2 separate regions of the Homo sapiens genome follow, and region 1 is linked to region 2. Evidence: fine-mapped expression QTL. Tissue or cell type: whole blood. Region 2 holds a variant in brackets; the other region holds the start of a gene. All regions are shown on one strand. Distances are between the middles of the regions.

Region 1 (5,490 bases), 29 kb before region 2:
CTGGGGATTCTGGCCAGTGTAATTTCTGTCAACCACGGACGTTTGCCTTCATGTGTAGAATTTACTGTTGTTATGCAAATTATATTTTCAATTATAAATGAAACAAGTTTGCAGATATTTTAGAAATCAGAGAAGGGAAACATCACCCACAGTCCCTCTGCTGGAACAGCCACAGTTGGCCTTGTCCTACTTACGTCCTTCAGTGGATGCTTCTGGGTGCTGGGGTTCTCCATTCAGGACACTGCACTCTCGGAGGTGGGAGGAGACTGGGTTGCGTCTGTGCCGACCTGGGATGCAGTTTCAGGTCAGAATCAGAAGATGTGCAAGTTACGCATGACACAGCTTTTTAAAGTGCTTTTCCCCTGCACTAATCAAGAGGGAGGTCAGCCCTCAGGTGTGCTGGACCCGGGAGGGACTGTGAGCTGTAAGAAGTAACGAGCCCCTTGAACTTCACAAGCTGGCCAGGGAGCCATATCCCGAATGCCACTGCCACTTCCTCGTGGTGCAAGGCTTGTTGGGACCTGCCACCTTGCTGAGGGAGGTGCTGAAGTAGGTGGTTTCCCTGTTCCAATGCGGTATGCGGTCTTGCAGGCCGAGGCATTCCCCAGGGGATGACGGAGCCCCCGCTGGGCTACAAGCCAGGGCAAACACTGAACTTGTGTCCTTAGCCGGCATCCCAGGAAAGAAGGCCGGGGTCAAGTTCACACCTCATGAGATCACAGTGACCAGCCCTGCCCAGGCTGCCCTGGTACGTGCCTGAAGCATCGCGGAGGTCACATCTAGCCACGGTGACCGTGGTGAGATGTAAGGATTAACCAGACTACGACTGGGGAGGTGAGGAAGGTGACAAGGACCCAGTTCCAGCTTCTAACGGGGTGTGGGATCTTTGAGCAAGGAAGAAGATGCTAGGGAGAATGAGTCTGGCTTTGTTCTTGTTGGGAGGTGTTCAAGCCATGGCTGGACCAGAGCATGAGCCATCCTCAGTGTGAGAGGCAGTTACTGCCGCGGTTGGGCTGCCTGGTAGGCCTGGAGCTCAAAATGAGTCAGTCTCTCTCTGGAAAGCGCAAGACAGAGACAGCGCTGGTGGCAGCTGGGCTGAAGCCAGCAGCTTGGAGATGAGGCTCAGGCCCTGACGGGGGAAATCTTACCCAGCCTCCCCAGATGGCTCAGAGACAGGTCTGGCAGGTGCACGGATCCACAAATCTAGAAGAGTCTGGGGTTGTCACATCCACCAACTAGGCTGGCTGTCTATATACACTTTGTCACTGTGTAGGCCCAGGATTTCACCCATCTACAAATTTTCTCTGCCACACGGCTACTGCCACTTTAATTCACCAAGCCAAGCCTTTGCACTCAGGACCCTGGCCCAACCCTCTTTGGCCAAGCAAAGAGGAAACGAGAACAGGACAGAAAAAAAAGTGGGACCGGACCAGGCACCTGGCTGTCCATTGAGGCCTTGCTATGCGATCCAGGACGGAAGGTGCCGGCAGCAAGCTCATACACTCTAGCTGCGTGTCATGTCATTGAAGAGGGCGCGTGATCCAGCTGGAAGGGTGGATAAAAGTGTAACTGCCCAGTGGGTTCACCTTCCCTGTTACCTAGACAGCCAATTTATCAAGAAAGGGCATTTGCAACAGAGAAAAGGTAATTCACGCAGAGCTAGCTGTGTGGGAGACTGGAGTTTTATTATTACTCGGTCTCCCTGAGCATCTGGGGTTTGGAGTTTTTAAAGATAAGCTGGTGGGTGGGGGGCAGCCAGTGAGTCAGAAGTACCCATTGGTCAGGTCAGAGATGAAATCACAGGGAGTCGAAGCTGTTTTCGCACTGAGTCAGTTCCTGGGTGCCACAACATCAGATGAGCCTGGGTGGTGCCAGGTGACCCACCAAGTGCTGATCTTAGGCTTTACGATGGTGATGTTATCGCCAGGAGCAGTTTGGGGAGGGTCAGAATCCTGTAGCCTCCCGCTGCGTGACTCTTCAACCGTAGTTTCTAATCTTGTGGCTAATCTGTTGGTCCCACAAAAGCAGGCTAATCCCCAGGAAAGGTTTCCTTTGGGAAAGGGCTGTTATCATCTTTGTTTTAAACTAAGTTCCTCCCACAGTTCAACCTGCGTGCAGCAGTAAACAAGGAGGGCATGGAGGTTAGAAGCAAAATGGAGCTGGTTATCTCACTGTCGGCAAATTTTGCAATGGCAGTTTCATAGAGATGCCTGTCCTCTGGGAAAAAAGCTAATAACAGGTTGTCTTTTTGGCTGCAGGTGGAAAACTGCATCTATTAGGAAGAGGTGGGGCTTTGTTCTTACCCACAATTGGAAGTTCTCTATGGAGTAAAGGCGGTATGTGTGCCACCTGATTCCTTTCCCCATGTGTATCTGGTTAGGGTCGGCCACGTGAGATCCGCAAGCATTTTAGAAGGTGGGAGGGGAGGTGGGAGCTGGCTACAGGCCAGGCGTTGGCGTGGTTCCGTGAGTGTGCTCCAGCCAGGCCCAAAGCTTCTCCTGCCCAGAGGGACCGTTTCCTCCAGCGTGGGTCGGGTGCTTCTGCGCCCGGAAAGAGCGCCAGCTCCTCCTTCGGGTGACCCAGGGAGCGGGGCTGCAGGCAAAGGCGCAGGCGGCCAAAAAGGTGCCAACCGGGTCCTGTGGCTTTCAGTTGTCTCTGCCCACCCAATTCACACCATCTTTCCCCCTCAGCCGCCTGTCCTGGGACTTCAGGCTCAGCACCAAACGCAGCAAAAGTAGGTGCACAGAGAGCGGGGTCAGCTCACGCAGCCCGAGCAGAATGGCTGTGCTGCCGCCCCAGGCCCGCGGCCACCGCTGTGTGTGTGGCAGGAGTCAGCCCCCCAGCGTGGGGCCCCGAAGCCCGCGGTCCTTCCACGGGGAGGGCCAGGCCCGCAGGGCGCAGACGATGGGGGACAGGCTGCGCCAGCGCTCGCCTGAGGCCCCGCACACAAACCTCAGGCCCATGGGTCCGCTCCGCGGGGCAGGCGTCGTGGGCCCAAGGAGGCCAGGCCAGGAGTCTCGGCCTCGGGGTTACGCGGCGGCGGGCAGCTCTTCCGCTCCGCTCAGGGTGCTGCTAACCCACAGCCAAGCAGCGACCCGCAGGACCGGCGAGAACCCCGCCACTGACTCCGGCCGGAAGAGAACGTGCAGAGATGTACGTCACTTCCGGGGCGTGGCGTGGCCGGGCGTGGCCGTCCCGCCCCTGGCGGCGTGCCTGGTGCCCTGTTCCGCGTCTGTGCGACCGTCCGTCCCGAGCGCGCAGCCGCGGCAGGTGCGGGGCGGGACCGGGGGCGCCCGGGGTGGGGGGCGTAGGGGGCGCTCGGGTTGGGGGTGGGACAGGGGACGCGCGGGGTGGGGGAGGAGACGGGACCCGGGGTACGCGGGGGTGGGGCGGGTGAGAGGTGCGCAGGGTAGGGGAGTAGGGGGCGCGCGGGGTGTGGGGCTGGACCAGGGGCGCGCGGGGTGGGGGCGGTGGGAGGCGCGCGGCGTGGGGGTTAGAGGGCGCGCAGGGTGGGGGACGGGACCGGGGACGCGCAGGGTGGGGGGCGGGACCGGGGGCGCGCGGGGTGGGGGCGGGACCGGGACGCACGCGGGATGGCGGAGTGGGAGGCGCGCGGGGTTGGGGGTGCTCCTGCGTCCGGTGTGCACCCCATGGCCCCCGCCAGGGAGACCGAGTCCGGGCCAGGGGCCGGAATCGCGGGGCGCGGGCCGGGGCTGGGGTTGGGGTTGGGATCGGGATCGGGATCGGGATCGGGATCCGGGTTCCCCGCGGCTTCAAGTTTTCTCTCGCTGTTACGAGGGCGTGGGAGGCGCGGCCGTGGGGTGGGGTGGGGCCAGGTCCGCGATGTGCTCACCCTGGTCTCTCAGGACCGTTGCCTTTGCGGCTATTTTTTGTGCAATCCCCGAAGCCTGCGTTTCCTGCTGCCTGGGTTCGGGGCGGGGGCATCGCGCAGGCCAGAACGGCCCCTGCGTCCGTAGGCCAGAGCCCCTGCCATCAGCCCCTTTAGGGTGCTCGCCGGCTGTCGGGTGTGGGGGTATGCCAGGCCCCGGAGGACTCGGCTTCCCCGCTAACCCGACCCGCCGCACCCCACCCAGGCCAGGTCAGAGCAGCCCACCATGGGATGGGGAGGGGGTGGAGGCTGCACCCCGCGCCCACCCATCCACCAGCAGCCGCCGGAGCGCCGCGTGGTCACCGTTGTCTTTCTCGGCCTCCTGCTGGACCTCCTGGCCTTCACGCTGCTGCTGCCCCTGCTGCCCGGGCTGTTGGAGAGCCACGGCCGTGCCCACGTGAGTCCTTGCCCTGCGGCCCACAGTGCCCCCTGCCCCCCAGGCCCATCAGACCTCCCCAGCCCTTATCGTGATTCCTCATCCCCTAGGACCCCCTCTATGGCTCCTGGCAGGGCGGGGTGGACTGGTTTGCCACCGCCATCGGGATGCCAGTGGAGAAGAGGTACAACAGTGTCCTGTTCGGAGGTATGGCTGGCTCTGTGCCCTTGGCGGGCTCTCTACGGTCCTATGTTTGGTGGACGTGGTCCAGCCCAGGCCCCTCCCCAATTCTCGGTCCTTGCCTTCCCACTCCCTGGGCTGGCATGTCTGGTGCCCTTGCCCACATGTCCTGGCTTCTGGGCATGATCCCTTGCCTCCGCGTGTCACGTTCAGATCCTTCCTCATCTCTCCATTGGGGCCCCCTCGGCTCAAGGGCCATGGCCTGTGAGTGTAGGGCCCAGCATGACTGGACCCTCAGGACGGGGCTGGACATTGGCCTTGAGGGCCCCAAGACCACAGCTCATGGTGCCAGGCAGCCCCATGATGGTGACATCTGTCTCTCAGGTCTCATTGGCTCGGCATTCTCTGTCCTGCAGTTTCTGTGTGCGCCACTCACTGGGGCCACCTCTGACTGCTTGGGGAGGCGCCCGGTGATGCTGCTGTGCCTGGTATGTTCCTGGGCCTGGGTGCCCATGGGGAAGCCTCCTCCCACCCAGCCAGTAGCCCCATGGGGTTAGGTGGGGAGAGGGAGGTGGCTGTGGGCCCCTCATGGCCACTGGTTGGCCCTCATCGCATCCTGGAGGGGGTTCTCGGGGGACCAGTGGCTCCTGTTCCAGAGCCAGGCTTTCAAGGAGCTGCTCCTGGCCCCTAGGAAGGCACTGAGAACGCAAGTGGCCCTCAGATGCTTCGAAATAGGGCAGGGTTGAGGGGTGTTGTCTGGGTTGCCAAGCCCTACTCTGAGCCACTCCTGGCCTTAAGCGACCGCCCCTGCCTCTTGGCCCCTGCCCCTGGGCAGATGGGTGTGGCCACCTCATATGCAGTCTGGGCCACCTCTCGGAGCTTTGCGGCCTTCCTGGCCTCCAGGCTGATTGGGGGCATCAGCAAAGGGAACGTCAGCCTCTCCACGGCCATCGTTGCTGACCTGGGCTCGCCTCTGGCCCGCAGTCAAGGCATGGTAAGTGCACAGGCTGGGCCTTTGGGGTCCTGGTGGTGACTTCTGGGCCTG
Region 2 (5,990 bases):
TTCTCAGTAACAACTTCGAATGCTGGAAATTGTTATCACACCTCATAGCAAATGTTTTAATTAAAGAATCAAGTAGGTAGAACAGAACCTTCTGTACAATCTCACAAACAGGTTAAAGATCCATTTGAAGCTACTTCAGTAACTAAGACAATGCCTGAAGAGAGGAGACGGGGAGGGGGGAGGGGAGGGGAGCAAGGCGCATAGACAGGTAGTGAGGACAGGGCAGTGAGTACCTTTCTAAAAGAGAGAGATTTAGCGGGACTAAAGGTCTGCTCTGTAAGCTCGAGCCCTTCGATAGTTTCCGTACAGTCAGAGAGAGGTGCATCCTGAAACAGTAAACTGAGTCACCAGAGCACACCAGGCCCAGCCTGTGAAATATCAGCTGAGAGCACAGGATGGAGCTGGCTAAGAGCATGCAGCAGGGACAGCTGTCAACAGTAAGTGTGGCAGTGATGATGGCAGGACGTGCAGACACTGAACACGAAACCAGGACCACGGCTGGACAAATCCAACAATCGTCTACCCCTGCAGAGTCAGGTGTTAAAGCATTAGGTGGCATATTAGTTTTCAGAGATAACTACTTACACAATTATCTTCAATGTGCCACAAGGTAGAGTCATTTTGTAGAAATGTGTGTAAATGTGCACCACACTTACAGGCACCCACCCCTCTGCAACCCAAGCAGCACTTTGTTGCAGACAGCAATATGTACCAGAACAAGAGTCCCTAAACCCACCCTCTCCTAGCGCCTTACACAGAACGCTGCTGAACCCGGGCCGAATCTGAGCCCCAAAGCTGGTGGTGTATGTGCCACCCTCACATATGCATGCATTACAAGGGGCATGACCAGAGGGGTGGACACAGCCCTCAGCATGCTCGCTCCTTCTAGAACTCAACGAAAAGTGCCTGAACCGTTTCTCATCATGAAGGTTTTAACAAAGGTAACTGGTTGCCTAGAATACTTACCTCATAAAGTCACTCTCTCAATTTCAGAATAACTTTGGAGCAGGCGGTCACACAGCCACCACCCACTAAAGTCAGAGACACTCTGGGCTCTCACCTGGACGAGGCTCCTGTCCATCACTACACCACACAAAACCTGGGACTGAGGGCCAGCCGTCTTAATGTCCTGTAAATTCTGCTCTCGGATCTGAGGGTGGGAAGGAGAGGCACACATCAACAGTCCTGAGCAGCCATGCTGCCTGGGAGCCCTGCTGCTTGTGCACTTGGGCCCCAGCCACATGGAAGCTACATTTCAGCTCTCCCACTGCCCCACGCAGGCAGGATGGCCCCATGTGTTCTGAGTGACCGCCATGCCTGCTTAGTGGGGCGTGGGTCTGCAGGGATGGAGACTATTCCCAGCTCCCCACATCTTCCAGATGCTTGGGCAGGACACCTATCTCTCACTGTCATTAACTTGGGGGAAACACTCGCTGCATGTCCATCGTCTAGTGATGTGAGCACTGGCAGGGCTCCTGCTCTGATACACCAAATGCCACTCACAAGTCTTTGAACGAACCCTGAAAGGGACAGCAGTCTGCTCTTGCTAAGAACAGGTTTTGCAGCTTCCAATTCTGACCGGTGAGCAAACATCGTGAGCAAACATCAGTTCAAGAATCAATAGGGCCCAAAAAATGTCTGCTGCTCATACTTCACACTGGTGGTAGAACAGCAGCGGTGTGAAGAGATGGCTTCACTGCAACAGTGGCAACAACAGCAGATGCCCTCTGCTAGAAGCAAGCACCCGCTCCCCCCAAAGCAGCTGGCATCCCTTCCAATCCCACACCCAAGCCCCCGCTGAGTGCCGACGCAGGACGCACCTTGTTCCTCATCTCCTGGACCTCTTTTGGGTTAGTGTTCAATGGAACAAACAGGTTAGGGACAGCAGAGGTGGAAGTTCTATGTCCATCCTCTTTAGTCCACTGTAATATCAAGAACAGTTGAAAAGTCAGAATTATGACAACAATAAGTGACATAGCATCCAATCTATTCAGTTTATCTCACATCTGGTCATGCACTGAACATCACAGAGAGGACTGAACCAATGACCACATCTAATCTGGGTCACTCAGCAGAGTCGCCATGGGAGCAGGATGCAGCCACATAAAGACCAGTTAATGCTGGAAGTCAAAGTCATGACTGATGGAAAACCACCATCTGGAAAGCCCAGCTGAATCTGGGTCATAAGGTAGGCTGACGACAGAGCTGAGCCCCATAACCCTGGGACCAGCAGGGGAGGCCCCTCAGAGACCATTGGTTCACTGCTCTGAAAATCATCCAACACCAAAGCCAACTGGAAGCATGAGATGACAGGGTCATGAAAAGCAATGTGATGCTGCTACCCAGGGTTAGGGAGGAGCCTGCACCGTGAGGCAAGAGTGGGCATCACCAAAGTTTTGCATTAAAGTAAATGACAGCATCAGAATGCACTGTCTGCGTAACTTTCAACCCAAGAACATTACTGTATGGACACTTACACGGTAGCTACCTGGAAGAAGAGTTTGGTGATGTCGAATATTTTATATAACTTAATATTTTTGAGTGCTACAAAAATATCCCAAACAAACTTGAAGCGCTTCATGAGTCCTTAATATTTAAAGGCTGTTTTAGTATCAGTGCATCTCGTCAGCATGCTGAGCCTTCCACCCATAATTTTTTTTTGGATCTCCAATCAAATCTGAGATTTTTAATCAAATTCTAAGGCATGAGTAGGCACTGAACATTAAAACAAGCCCATCTTCGAGAGCAAATGTTATGCCTTTCAGAATACTTTCGAGAGGCAATAAGATAGCCATAAACCATACGACTTTAAAAAAAGCAACAAAACCAGCAAATGCTGAGCCACTGCGAGGAGAGTGTGGAATGGGCATGGAGCTCTGGGTACTCACTGATGGTTATCTTCTCAGATAAAAACAACTCCAGCGTTTTATTAAAAATAATTTTTAGTCAAAGCATTTCAAACAGCAACCTCAGAAACTTGAACACATTTGAAAAAGTAACAGCAATCATTATAAATGAAAAGATACCAACCTGGGAGCACTGCATGGACTCTGTCACTCCAGAACAGTAAGAAACAAATATAAATGCGGAGCAAGGCCTCCCCTTGGATGTACACATTGACTACTAGGCCTAAAGTGACTTAGTTGTTTTGCAAGCTAATGGTAAATAAAGCTCGCGCTGCTGCCTAAACGCTTTGGAAAACTTCCTCATGGCAATTCAGCACTGTGCTTCACATCAGCCGCAGAAAGGTGTTTTGGGGTTTTTTTTTTTT[G/TG]TTTTATAACGCCCACTTCCTTTAACAAGTGAAACAAGTAAAAAATAAACAAATGAAAGAAAAGGGGAGACAGGAAGAAGGGGGGAAAGAAGACAAGGAGGGCAGGAAAGAAGAGGAGAGACGCACTCCCATGCTCAGAGCCCCATGGCCACACAGGGTCCCTGCCCAGGTGACGCGGCCGCTCAGGAGCACGGAGGCTTCTCACCAACTGCGTCAGGAAAACACCAGGACCACCTGGGGAAGATAAAACTTTTTTTCTTTAAATAAATCTATAAAGTAAAACACTGTTACAAGGGGAAAAGAAAGCCCCACTTTATGTATTTGGTTGCCCATGGTTTTAGGAGCATCTAATCTAATTTCAACTGAACTCCTAATGAACTAGTCATGCACAGATGAGTCTGCTTCAGCCCCTGTCTCCTCCATTCCAGGGGCTTCTGGAAATGGGCCTCTTCTACATACAGTTTAAAGCAGAGCTGGGTGGACTGTTAGAGGTAGGTTACAGGAGGAATAAAGACCCATCTTCAGAGGAGGTCTCAGCACCACGACATGGGAGCACCTCTCAGGACAAACGATAACTTGAGCGGCATTAACGCTGAAACGAAGCACCCCTTGCAGCGTCTGTCGCTGGTGCCTGCAGATGGCCTGCGCTGCACTTGGGTCATGCCGCACCCAACAGGAGTCAGAAGGTGACTCGCCACTATGGCCGTCTACTCACATGCAACAGTCCATGCAGAGGGCAGCTGGGGGTGTGCATTCGGAGGCTTTGGGATAGAAAGCAGGGGAATAACACTAAGGGCAGGGGACAAGAGTCAGCAGAGAACACGCCAGGGAGCCACAAGGGAAAACTGCTTAAGAAAACACTGAAGACTTAAGAAACTTTAGTGACTTGAAACCACTGGAGTTCACAACACTAAAATACAGGTTTAGGACTGAAGTGTCTTTTTGTGCATGAAGTATTAAGAGTCCCTGAATATAATTTGAATTAAATAAGAAGAGCTCCTATTTGTAGGTTAATACATGTAAATTATTGTATATTTTTGCTATATACGGAGATATACTGGAACTACTGCGGAGTTACATTACATCTTAAGCAGTTTCAAGCAGATAGTATTATCCGAATTTTAGTAATGCATTCAGTGGACTTAGGTTCAGACTACAAGAAAGTGAATAAGGAAGGTTCGCTTTACACCTGGGTCAGAAAGGCTGGATTCCCAAAGCCTCCGAAGCCCCAGCTACCCAACTTGCTCTACGTCATCTAACTATGAACAGTAAGGTAGGCACAGACCAAGCAGTTGGTAATACAGCTTGGCACGCAGACACCGGACGAGAGAGACTGCAGCAAGGGTTTCACGTGATCGTGTGTAATGTTCGTCCACACCTTAGTCTTCGACTTGGGACTGCTTCCATTCTGCCCTTCCTCGGAAGCTTCGTCGCCCCGGCCAGAGTTCAGCCATCTTGTCTTCTCCCGCTGCTGCTTCTGAAAACTGTGTCTGAGTGGGGAGCAAGTGCCCGAATCACCGTCACTAGCAAAGGAGTAACCTGTGACACTAGCAGGAACCTCCACATCGCTGTATTTTTTAGACTTCTCTCTCAGAGCAGGGTATCGATAAGGGTAGCCAGTTCTGTAGCCCTAGGGTCCAAGGAGAGTGAAAGACAGTCAATATTCCAGATCTCAAAACAGGGTTTCACTTTGGAAAATCATGTGGAAACATCCACAAAAGTTGAACACATGCATACCCTATGACTCAGTAATTCCACTCCTAATTTTACACCCCACAGAAGCAAATGTGTTCACCAAAAACCAGGTACTAAAATGTGGACAGCAACCCTACTCCTCGTAAACCACAATTGGAAACAACCCAAAAGTCCATCCATATAGGAGATGGATAGTCTAGTGTCTTCATAAGAAGGCTTATAGTGACACAATGTGCTCTAAACCAACCACGTGGATGACTCTCCTGAAGGCAACGCTGAGTGAAAGAGACCAACCTGCAAAGAACATACACCATGTAATACCATTCATTAAAAGTGCAGAAGATGCAAAACAACCTTTGTTTTGGTTGTCCTGGGAGACAGGACAGTTGTCACCCCTGGGATGGGACAAGTGAACTGAAGGAGGTGCTGGGGGTGTTCTGAGGTGCTGCTACCGTTGCTCTTATTGACTGCTGGTTATACAGGGGGTTCAGTTTTTAAAAATGAACAAACTGAACACTTGCGGTAGGTGCACTCTCCTGCTTACATATTTCAACAAAAAATTAAAGTTGAACACCCAAACAGGGTTTACTTGCTGCCAGCCACTGTGCAGGTTATATTCATCAACATACTTAATAGACTTTTACCTCTTAAGTTACAGTTTAAATACTGTGATAATCTTTAGGTAAGTAAGGTAAGTAAGTATACCTCATGACAACTGGTTCTCAGCAAAATTACTTTACGTCTGAATACAACAACATTCAAATTCACCTCCAGCTCTGCCTCATGACCATGTGCTCTGTGGTAAAAGACAGCCCCACTTACTTCATGCCTCTACTGGACCAACTCATCTGCAGAGTCCTCCCACAGACAGCATCTCTAAGGGCATGGACGGTGTCCTCTGCATCTCTCCTGGCCACACTTGGTAAGTGTGACAGACAGACTTCACAGTGGCCCCAGGCCCCCAGCTCCTGTAATCCCCTCCCACCTTGAGCACAGGTGAGATCTCTGACTTGCTTCTAAGTAG

What was found. PIP is the estimated chance that this variant, and not a neighbour inherited with it, causes the effect.
Region 1: NOP14-AS1 starts here. The variant in region 2 is fine-mapped to the expression of NOP14-AS1 in whole blood (INTERVAL, PIP above 0.99).

What each region holds. Positions count from the first base shown.
Region 1 is chr4:2,932,549-2,938,038 of GRCh38, reverse strand. NOP14-AS1 (NOP14 antisense RNA 1) reads right to left here and starts at 2,493. Exons shown (of 4, transcript NR_015453.2): 1 at 1-2,493. SLC75A1 (solute carrier family 75 member 1) reads left to right here and starts at 3,214. Exons shown (of 13, transcript NM_001146069.2): 1 at 3,214-3,270; 2 at 4,095-4,286; 3 at 4,376-4,472; 4 at 4,830-4,933; 5 at 5,281-5,439. The coding sequence starts at 4,116. NOP14 (NOP14 nucleolar protein) reads left to right here. Exons shown (of 18, transcript NM_001291978.2): 18 at 1-103. RefSeq lists enhancers at 245-664, 1,135-1,374, 1,177-2,376, 3,634-4,501, 4,594-4,723 and 1 more and silencers at 2,765-2,874, 3,035-3,344, 3,574-3,793.
Region 2 is chr4:2,903,675-2,909,664 of GRCh38, reverse strand. It overlaps ADD1 (adducin 1), which reads right to left. Exons shown (of 16, transcript NM_001354761.2): 10 at 4,557-4,901; 11 at 1,821-1,922; 12 at 1,061-1,150; 13 at 234-326. Among named protein-coding and RNA genes, the nearest start is that of SLC75A1, 28 kb to the left of the region's middle. The variant G/TG (reference allele first, on the strand shown) is at 3,272.